2 separate regions of the Homo sapiens genome follow, and region 1 is linked to region 2. The links come from fine-mapping of genetic effects on gene expression. A gene starts in region 2. The other region holds a variant in brackets. All regions are shown on one strand. Distances are between the middles of the regions. Region 1 overlaps SEC14L1 (SEC14 like lipid binding 1). Region 2 holds the start of PRCD (photoreceptor disc component).

What was found. PIP is the estimated chance that this variant, and not a neighbour inherited with it, causes the effect.
Region 1: its variant is fine-mapped to the expression of PRCD in ileum (GTEx, PIP 0.90).

Annotation. Positions count from the first base shown.
Region 1 is chr17:77,144,120-77,149,304 of GRCh38, forward strand. All of the region lies in intron 3 of SEC14L1 (SEC14 like lipid binding 1), which reads left to right. Among named protein-coding and RNA genes, the nearest start is that of SEC14L1, 5.7 kb to the left of the region's middle. The variant A/C (reference allele first, on the strand shown) is at 2,594.
Region 2 is chr17:76,537,613-76,542,797 of GRCh38, forward strand. PRCD (photoreceptor disc component) reads left to right here and starts at 2,432. Exons shown (of 5, transcript NM_001077620.3): 1 at 2,432-2,603; 2 at 2,893-2,961; 3 at 4,941-5,021. The coding sequence starts at 2,530. The coding sequence ends at 4,962. It overlaps CYGB (cytoglobin), which reads right to left and starts at 97. Exons shown (of 4, transcript NM_134268.5): 1 at 1-97.

The DNA.
Region 1 (5,185 bases), 610 kb after region 2:
TTTCCGTTATTTACCTGAAGAATTTGGCTGAAAATAAGCATTTTACTAGATGCAAAGCAAACCTTTTCCAGTCATTTTTAGATTACCGTAGGGTATTTCTTCTTTTCCTTTCTCTTTTGTGTTATTATTAAGATATAACATACATACCAGAAAATATAATACAGACAGGAGAATGTGTCTTTCATGAGCACACACCTGATGAAAACGTGTGTCACACTCAGCACACCTGGGATACTGGCACCAAGGTCAGGAACCAGAACATGGCAACCCAGGAAGAAGTCTCCCCTGGTTCAAGTGAGCCACTGTTTTGACTCCTAATACACAGAGGACTGTTACCTGTTTCTGTTCCTTCTATAAATAGAAACGCAGGTGTTTTAGCAGCTGGCTGCTTCTGCTCAGCGTATGTTTGTGGGATTTATATAGATCAATAGTTTTGAAAAACAAGAAGTCCTCTTACGGGAAGAATTTACATGACAGGGTTTGTTTTAAAATTTATTTTATTTATTTTTTTGAGACAGCGTCTCACTCTGTCACTCAGGCTGGATTGTAGTGGCGCGATCTCAGCTCACTGCAACCTCCATCTCCTGGGTTCAAGCGATTCTTCTGCCTCAGCCTCCCAAATAGCTGGGATTACAGACCTGCACTACCATGCCCGCTAATTTTTGTATTTTTAGTAGAGATGGGGTTTCTCTATGTTGGCCAGGCTGGTCTCGAACTCCTGACCTCAGGTGATCCACCCGCCTTGGTCTCCCAGAGTGCTGGGATTACAGGCGTGAGCCACCTCTCCTGGTCTATTTTTATTTTTATTTTTTGAGACGGAGTTTTGCTCTCGTCCAGGCTGGAGTGCAGTGACGCGATCTTGGCTTACTGCAGCCTCTGCCTCCTGAGTTCAAGCGATTCTGCATCAGCCTCCCGAATAGCTGCGATTACAGGTGCCTGCCCCCGCACCTGGCTAATTTGTGTGTGTGTGTGTGTATGTATGTGTGTGTGTGTGTGTGTGTGTGTGTGTGTGTGTGTATATATACACATATATATTTGTTTTGTTTTGTTTTTTAGTAGAGATGGGGTTTCTCCATGTTGGCCAGGCTGGTCTTGAACTTCTGCCCTCAGGTGATCCTCCTGCCTTGGCCTTCCAAAGTGCTGGGATTACAGGTGTGAGCCACTGTACTTGAGATATAATTTACATACAGTGAAATGGTCACGTGTCAGGTGTACAGTTTGATTAGTTTTAACAAAAGAATCCCTCACACCTTTGTGAAAACACAGGACATTTGAATCCATCCCCCTGGTGAAGGTTCTGTGGTGCGCCTTCCCTTTCAGGTGTGAGGTTTTGGTTTGTGTGTGTGGGTAAGAAGCTCTGTGTGTTAAGATGTCTGTGTGTTAAGAAGTTACGTGTGTTAAGATGTAGTTACACATCTTAAATATGTGTAGCTAGGGCTGTTAACAGTATTTTATGTTGTTGACTTACCATGTTTGCCATTTGCATGTTATCTGTGCTGTTTTGGCTTTTGGTTGTATGAGGCAAAGACCCACTCCAGCCAGCTTGGGAAGGAGTTTGGTGAGTGGGAACATGTATAGTGTGATAGGAATCACACAGGAATCCGGGAATTCGAGCTGGGATGGGCTGAGCTCCAGAGCCTGGTAGTGGAGGGAGGTTCCTGGCTGCTCTGGGGGCCTCAGCCACAGTTTTTCTCTAGGATTTTGCCCTGTGGGACTGTGCCTGGCTCCATGTGCTGGAGCCTTCTACCCCGCCACCAGCTGGCTGCTTTGCTCACTCCTAGTTTTCCATGTGGCTTCAGCTCGAGGACGTGCTTAGCTGTCTGAAAGCCCTCTGGCCCCAGTTCAACTCTGTGGCATTTCTTGTTGCATTCTTTCAGTTTCTAAGTGACCAATTCCTGTCACATTTCATAGTTCACATCCTTGAGAGAAACTTGATCTAGTTCATTCCCCACCCCGACCCCTGCCCTGGTCCTGGGTTTGAGGATATTGGCTAGCCTGTGGATTGTTTGCCTTAGGTGGGAGGCCTGACCCTTGTTCAGTGAGCTGGGCTGGTGGAGCTGGGGAGGAGGCAGTGGGGGTGGTAGGCAGTGGGCATCGCCAGGTAAAGTAGAGTGGCTGCCCACGGCCCGGGGTGGACACAGGGCAGAGAGTTGGGCAGGGTGGGGGATGTTCTCCAAAACACTTGAGTGTGGCTTAAAAAGTTCATGCAACCCTGATAGTTTGAGGCAAAGGCTGGTTTCTTTGCCAAACGTTAGATTTAATAAAAGAGGAGGTGTTTGGATTGTTTAACGTTCAGACTTCCTTATTTCCCTTACTTCACTATTTTCAAAATTGTGACGTTTACCTTGCCAGTTCATGCAGGACTTTACAGAAGAACTCGAAATTCAAATTCTGAGCTGCCACCAAGTTTTTACAATTAAACCATTTTAAAACTATTGTTCTGAGGTAGTGGTTAATTTCCCTTCTTTTTCTTTCTTTCTTCTCCTTTTTTTTCTTTTTTTTATGATTTAAAACTTACTAGTTAGAAACTTTTTTTTTTGCCTCACCAGCTTCAGGAAATTTTCTTTTGAATTGTTAGAAAAACAAACAAACA[A/C]ACACACAGACGCACACACACGCACGTATATTCTTCCACCCTGTAGTATAAAGAAAACATTTTTAAATCCGAAAATGAAATATGTTACCTTTTTCCTTCCAAAAGTAGACTGTGAGTGATGTTTGTGTGGTGTCCTTTGCCCCCATTTCTTACTGTAGTTTTATGGTATAAAATCCTCAGTATTTGCTTAATTTTTTTTGTCATTGAGGAAAACTAACAGTAAAATGAGTTAACCTGAAAATGCCCTTTTCAGTTCAGCATTCAGAGTGAGGAAAGAGGTATATATGCAGTTAAGGTGAGAACGGAACCGTAGCTTCCGCCGGCGGACTTGTGAGCACGTCAGAAAGCGAATGTGCCTCACTAGAACGCACGGTGGCGGCAGGAGTGGCCGGCAGTGCCCGGCACGCAGTCACGGGAGGTGGGTCGAGTCCTGGTTTATGTGAGTCCTGTGAGGTGAGAGAGTGGGAGAAAACGCCTCACTCAACTTAATGCCTTTGTTTGTTTGTTTTAACCAAGAGTTTACTTGTAATTTAGTATTGCCGGAAAATTGTTCAGGTAAAAAGTGCCTAGTATAAATAGGTACACAGTCAGGTCAGATATGTTAATTGCATCTCACTTGATTTAATGAAAATTTACCATTTGTTTTGAGGTCAGTACCATTAAAAAAAAAACATGTTAAAGTTCTCATTAACTCGCTTGAGTGGTATTTACATAAGCAAAATTGAAGTGGAGGTTTTTCAGTAGGCATTTGCATGGTGTTGTTTTGTTAGATATCAGCCCAGAAACAGAATGTCAGAGCTTTCAGCGAGTTGGAGCAATCACCTAGCTCAACCCTCCCTTGGAGGGCGGGGAATCTGAGACTCCGAGGTGGTGAAACTTACACAGGTAGTGCCGAGATCTGATTCTCGAGTTTAGTGTTCTTTTCTCATACTATGCTTCTTCCTTCTACCCAGGGATGTGTACCTGAAACATTTTATGAAAGAGAAATCAAAACTTCTTGGCCACACACAAACGAAAGCCTCACACCTGACAAGGAAGGCGCACCAGGGAACCTTCTGGGGGGATGGTTGCAGATGTCCTGTGTTTTGACAAAGGTGTGGGGGACTCATTTTTTAAATTGAGTTATAATTTACATACAATGAAGTGGTCACATGTCAGGTGTACAGTTTGATCAGTTTTAACCAAAGGGCTGCTCTTCCTGGCTTGCGGGGAGGAGAAATTAATCAGTGAAGGACACTGATTGATTGTGCCTTAAAGGGTTTAAGATCTCACGGGAGCATAGTGATATGATCCCACAGATTAGGAACTTAGAATGGGATGTATAATTCTAGGGTGCTTGAGTTGAAGTGTTTCTTTTTGAAATTTCTAAGATAAAGCACAAACTTTAAAAGTTAAACATTGTCAAGTGCATCTCCCCCTCCCCCTGCATGTTAATGGTTCCTTAATAAAGGCTTCAAAGGGAAAATGAAGGAGGCGGGAGGCCACCTAGTGTAGGAGGGCAGGGTGGGAGAGGTCAAGGTCAGGAGCCCTTAAGGAGAGTTGTGGGAGAGAGGGAAGAACATGAGAGGCCACCTTCTGAACCCGATTTTTGTGGTGACAGCCGCAGGCGAGATAGTGGCTTGGACTCTGGTCTTTCTTCTGCTGAGGACAGCTGTCCTCATTGTGACCAGTGGGAACACACGATAGAAGAGGCTCCATTAGCTCCTGTGCATCCCAGGAGTTGCCACCCTGTCCAGTGCCGTTTCTGTCTGGGCTTATTTCCATTACACAGCAGATGTGGTCACCTCATTCTTTGCTCTCTCCTTTCCTCGCCCTCATCCCAGTTTCACTGTGCCCTAGGAGTGCTGGCTTTCTCCAGGAACCCCTTCAGTGTCTCTGTCCCTTCAGCAGACACACCCTTTAGACTGTGCCTTCAGGAACCAAGGCACCTGGTTCTGTCCCTGTCTGTCCCAGCACTGCCATCGTTGCAGCGTAAGCCCCTCCCTTTGCAGGGAAAGACCAGGGGTCCCTTGTTCCTTTGCGCACTCACATCTTTCATCCCTTAGGTCACTTTGTGCTCCCCTGCCACACACTTTCCATTGTGTGTGTCCTGTGTTGAAGGCTTTCCTGTTATCCGTCCTCGCACGTCTCAGCTCCTGTGCTTTTTTCGGCAAGGCCATTTGTGGCTGTGTTCTGCCTGGTCCGTTTAACCTTATTTCATAATTATGCACACTTCCCAGCTTGAACTTGAACATTTGTTTCTGTCTTGTTCCCGTTGGCCCGGACACACAGTGCTGTTTCCTGCCCCCTCTTTTCTTTTTTCTTTTCAGACTTCTTTGCCTCAGATGTTTGCCATTCCCCATCTGTCTCTCCAGATCTTACCCATCTTGTCCTTCCACACGTCCCCGATGCCTCTGAAGATGCCATTCATGTTTCTCTCCCTTCCCCGGGACACATTCTTAATGTTGGAGTTGGTGTTAGGTACTTTCACTTGCAATGGGAGTTTCTTTATTCACAAAGCCTCTTGAGTGTTGCTCTCATACTATTTTGTGTGTCCTTCCAGGGCAGTGACCTTGACAGTTATTTGTCTTGTTCTCCCAAGCGCGGGTGCTA
Region 2 (5,185 bases):
GCGCCGGGAGCCGGGGCCGGCTGCGTGCGCGGCGGGCGGGCGAGGGGTAGAGCGCGGAGGGAGGGAGCGTGTGTCTGTGCGCGCCGGGTGTGTGTGTGTGTGTGCGTGCGTGTGTGCAGGGTATATGTGCGGGGGGCGGGGGACAGCCAGCGGTGGGGCGGGGATGTGGTCTGCTGGAAAATGTTTAAAAAAACAAATCCGCTCCAAACCCCCAGCCCCGTGTGGGTAAGAGCCAATGCCGGCAAGGTGAAGGCTGCGCGGGGTGGGGGCGACGCGACTGCCGCCCGCCCACCCGCAGGCCACGGCGGAGTTGCACCGCGGGGCGGGGCTCGGGTAGGTGTGGCCGGGGCGCTGGGGGTCCCGGGAGGAATGGGCGGTCACGCGGCGCTGGGCGGCGCGGGCCGCACAGGAGTGCGCTGGGGCGGGCGCGGGCCGGGAGCGCTGGGTTCCGGGTCCCAGTGCTTGCGGCGTCGCGAGTGTGCGCGTGCGGACCCTTCCCGCGGCGGGGAACTGACTCAAAGTCCAACACTCCCGAGCTTTCGCGGCGAGGCCGACCGCCAGCCCGCCCGTGGGGGCGAACAGGAGCCCCTCCGGCGGCCGCCGTGGACCTAGCTGGGCTCCCCTCGCCCGGGCCTCTCCCCGCGCCCCCGAGCCAGCCGCTGGGGGCCGCGGCGCCACTCCCACGGCTCTGGACGCCCAGGCTCTGGGGGGTTAGCACGGGGGTCGTCCCCCTGCCCGCCCACCGCCCCGGCTGTCGGAACTTGAGCGCACCTCCGACCTCGGGCGCCAGAGGCCTGCGCCCCCTCTCCTTCCGCCCAGCACCTCCATGCCCTCGGTGCACGAACGCGGCGGCGGCGGCCAGAAGTCCCCCGTGGCTTATGAATGACACGGACAGGCAAGAACCAGCCGCTGCCCTGAATTCTAGCCCAGCTGGTGGCGGAGGAAGTCCAGAGAGGCACCGGATAGGGCAGACAGGACCTGGCAGACAAAAAGTCTTGAGGAAGGCGCAGGCTGCTGGGGACATCTCAGCCGCCACCAAGGGCCCGATTCCGGGCCTGGGGGAGGCAAATCCTTCCTCCTGGTGGGCCCTATCCAGGGCAGTGTGAGATTGGGCCAGAGGTGGGGGGAGAATCCCATGGTGCCTGCCCTGCAGCGGCTGCTCAGTCCTGGGGACAGCCTGAGGCCAGACAGGGCCTGGCAGTGTTGGGAAGAGATGTCACTCAGGCTCCCGGCGACCCCTGTCCTCGCTCAAGACTTGATGTCCCATTGCCCAAGCATTGCTAAGGGTTGGCTCTGCGCTTTCACTATGGTTCATGTATTTATTCTTAAAATCCGACTTTAAGGTCCGGGGGAGGCGAGGAGAACTCACCCTGGCCAGCCTCAGCTGCAGCCTGGGCCCCTCCTGGGAGCTCAGGGTTCAGGTGCCTGGGGGACCCTGAGGCAGTGCCTCTGACACTGTCTCCCCCTTGTTGAGGGAATGAAAATCTAATGCCTCCTGGGGGTCTTGGAGGGGCTGGAGGGGAGCGGGTGGGTTCAGGTTCTCACACCACTCCCAGACCCATGTCTCAGCGTGGCCATGGCTGGCTCCATGCTCCACACACACACTGAACAGCTTCTCAAAGTTGGTGTGACCAAGTGGCTGCCCAACAGGTCCCCTTGGGATGTGGAAAGAAAATAGGAGAAATCGTGTAACTATTTCTTTTCATCTCATCCTTTGCAAATGTAATATAGTCGTATGGTGTAGGAATGAATCTGTACAGTAGTCTAGCATATAATTTGTAAGTGGCTGCACCTGTCTATTTTGTGAGTGCACACTTGAATTCTGCCTTTTACTGAAGAGGGCGTGTAATCAGAAAAGTTTGGAGAGGATTGTCCAGAGGGTAAAACTGCCAGCCCTTCACTGTTGAGTCTCCCGTCTCTCTGGCTTCATTATCCAATATTCCTCCCCTTTCTTCCTCCTCTCCTGATGCTTCCACGGTGACATCATTGCTTCACCTCCATTCACCTTGCAGTTACTGGCAGATGCTCCATGCTTTCATGTCAGTAGCTTCGGCAGCGTCTTCTGTCTGAGGGCTCATCCTGCCTTGTGCACTGCAAATTCAGAGGCCCTTGCTCCTCTTTAAACGTTGCCCTGATGCCTGCAACTCTGAAAGTGCCCTGTAGGCGCCTTGAATAACTCCTGGGTCACTCTACTGCAGTCATTGTACTTGACAGCACATTTGTTTAGAGTGGCAGCTCCTTGCAAGCAAGGCCCAGTCTCATCAGATCGAGACTCCGAATACGTGCTCAATGCCACAGTGCATGCCTTGACCCTACCGCTGGAGGGGAGAACCTGGGCCCAGTGAGCTTAATCAGTCCTCACAAGGTCGGGGCCGCTGACCCACTAATCAGCTTGAGCCTCCTAATCCATCCCCAGCAGGAACCGCAGGACAGACGGCAGTGGCTCCTGAGAGCTGGCTGGGGCCATTTTGGCCCCTCGCCTGTGGCCTTCTGCAGACTTGGCCTGGGAGGGGATGGGGCAGCTGCGCCATGTGCACCACCCTTTTCCTGCTCAGCACCCTGGCCATGCTCTGGCGCCGCCGATTTGCCAACCGAGTCCAACCGTGAGAAACTGACCGGGCTATGGCTGGCGGTTGGTCGGGGGGGGGGGGCATGGGGCTGGGCTGCCACCAAGCTGAAGGTGGGCAGGGGCTGCGTGAACCTTCAGCGGGGCTGGGAGGGCATTTTGAGGAACCCTTGAGAGAGCACAGTCTCAGAGCAGGGGGACTTAGAGCTTCAAAGGCTCTAGTTGCAGCCTCTACTCCCATAGCCCAATGCGGCCTGGACCTGTGGAGGGACAGTGAGGGGCTGGGCACAGCCATAGCTCTTCCTCCCTACTCTTGCCTCCCACAGAGAGCCCAGCGACGTGGATGGGGCAGCTAGGGGCAGCAGCTTGGATGCGGACCCTCAGTCCTCAGGCAGGTAAGGCAGGAGTCTGGGCTGGGGGAGGGAGGGTGCTGCCAAGGAAGCTGTGGCTGTGCATGCCTGGGGGTGCACGTGTGTGCCTGTGCGCGCCTGTGCGTGCACCGTATCCTGGCCCTTGCCCTAAGCACCCTGCTCCCTGTCCGCCTGCTGGGCAGGCTGGATGTCTGTTTTCTGCGGTTGGGAATGGGAACCCTCAGCTCGCTCCTCTGGACCAAAGCCGCTGTGCCTCTCATCTCCAGCACGGGGCGGTCCCCCGGGGCACCTTCTGTCAGAAGGCACAGGGGAGTGGAAGGAGGGATGAGGCAGGAGTAGCTCTGTGTGGCTTTGCTCGCCTTTCCTTGCCCTTCCCCCTCCTCCTCCTCTGCCCCCGCCCTGCCTCAGCTAGGCTGCCTGAGCCTCCAGCAGGATTCGCTGTCCAGTCCCCAATAGAAGGCGCGGGAGGAGCATGACATCATCAGCATAGAGTGCCATTGGCTGGGCAGACCCTGCGGGCAGGACGCTGTCTCCAGTGGCCAGAAAGTTAACTCTTCCCTAGGCTGGAGCCATGTGGTCTTTAGGGGGTGAAGTTGGGGGAACTTCCAGACTTTTCCTTCCCTGGGTGACCAGTGTCGTTCGATGATAGGGGCGCCTATCCCAACCAAACACTGGAAAAAATCAGCAAATCTTTATGAAGTTCCCATGCATGAGGGGTTCCTTCTGTGCCTATGGACTCACCTAGCGTGGGAGACCTGTCTGAAGAGTGACTTTTTTGCTCCCAGTGAAACAAAGAGTAAAAAAGATCCGATGACATCTTTGGGTCAGGGCGCACTGGCAGGAGGGTGTCTCCACACAGGGAAGACTCAGGTGGCGGGTACTGTGACCATCCATGTCTCTTTCTGAGTGGGGACCTGCCAGCAATGTGTCCCTTAGATATGCGGAAACTGGCAACCGAGAGAACTTCCGTCTTTCTGTCTCCTGTCGTCTGAGTCCTGGGATTCTGAGTCCTGAGATTCTGATGATCAGAAGGCCCAATGGGAAGCCCTGGGCCTGTACAGGAAGCGGAGGCATTTCTGCGACACCTCAACTCGATAGGCCAGCTGGCATCATCATAATAGTGCCTAATTGATATCACTAGTTAAATCAGCTACAATGACCACCCCTGGGCCTCCCCCGATAGGAGGCCCTCAAATGCTGGGTGGTCCACGCTATTGAGCCCGGGTCTAGAGTTGGGCAGGGAGAATTTAAATTCTGGCTTCCCTCTTACTAATGGAAAGACTATGGGGGAAATTTATGCAATCAGTTTATTTATATGTAAACTAGGATTAATAACAGTGGTTGTGAGGTTTTGGTGAGGGTGCAGAGTGATTGCTCCATAAATGCTAGCAGCTGTCTTGTTTCATGCTCGGGACCTGTGCTTTAGTTTTCTCCAGAGGTTTCCTACCTATTAAGTCACTCGGGAGGCTCAGTAACCCCAGAGGATTGGCAGGACATGTGTTTTTAATCTTTGGTTAATGGTTGTGGAAACTGAGGGACAGGGAGATTTAGGTGGCTTGCTCCAGATCATCTATCTCATTTGTGGCTAATGCGGGATGCTCAGGCCCGATTCCAGGCAGGGTCTCTTCTACATGAAATGGGCCTGGACCTCCTGGCAGGAGAGAAAAGGCCAAATCTGAGGACCATCTGGCCAGGCCTGGCCTGGCGTGACTTAGCCAGAAGGAAGCAGTTGCCTATTAACTCCTTGGGACCCAGTTAACTGGAAAAATTGGTCTGACATCGAGGAACCACCTGCCGATGGTGGCTGCCGTGGAAGGCTGGCAGTGGGGGTGACATTTCTACTCTCCAGTCACACTGTCCTAAATGCCAACTGATTCCTTAGGTGGTCCTGCCCCTCAATATTGGGGTGAATTGATAGGGATGGGAGGAGGAGGAAGAGGAGAGTCAGAAACATGGGAAGGTCGTGCCCTTCAATCCTGACCCCAGTGCTTTCCTCTGTTTAGGGAGAAAGAACCTCTGAAGTAAGCCCTCACCTCTGCAGGTGGGGCTCAGGCCCAGAGACTGGGATCAGCTGGCTCAGGCAGGTAGGGCAGGGCTGGGAGCCGGGGAGGGCAGAGGGCAAGGCTTGGGACAGGCAGGAAGCAACAGGCAAGTCCCGGCCATGTGGGAGGATAGCAGGCAGTGTTCAGCTCTTGCCACTGATGGAGGTTCAAAGTAGGCGGATGGACTCATGCCTTTGGCTGCTACC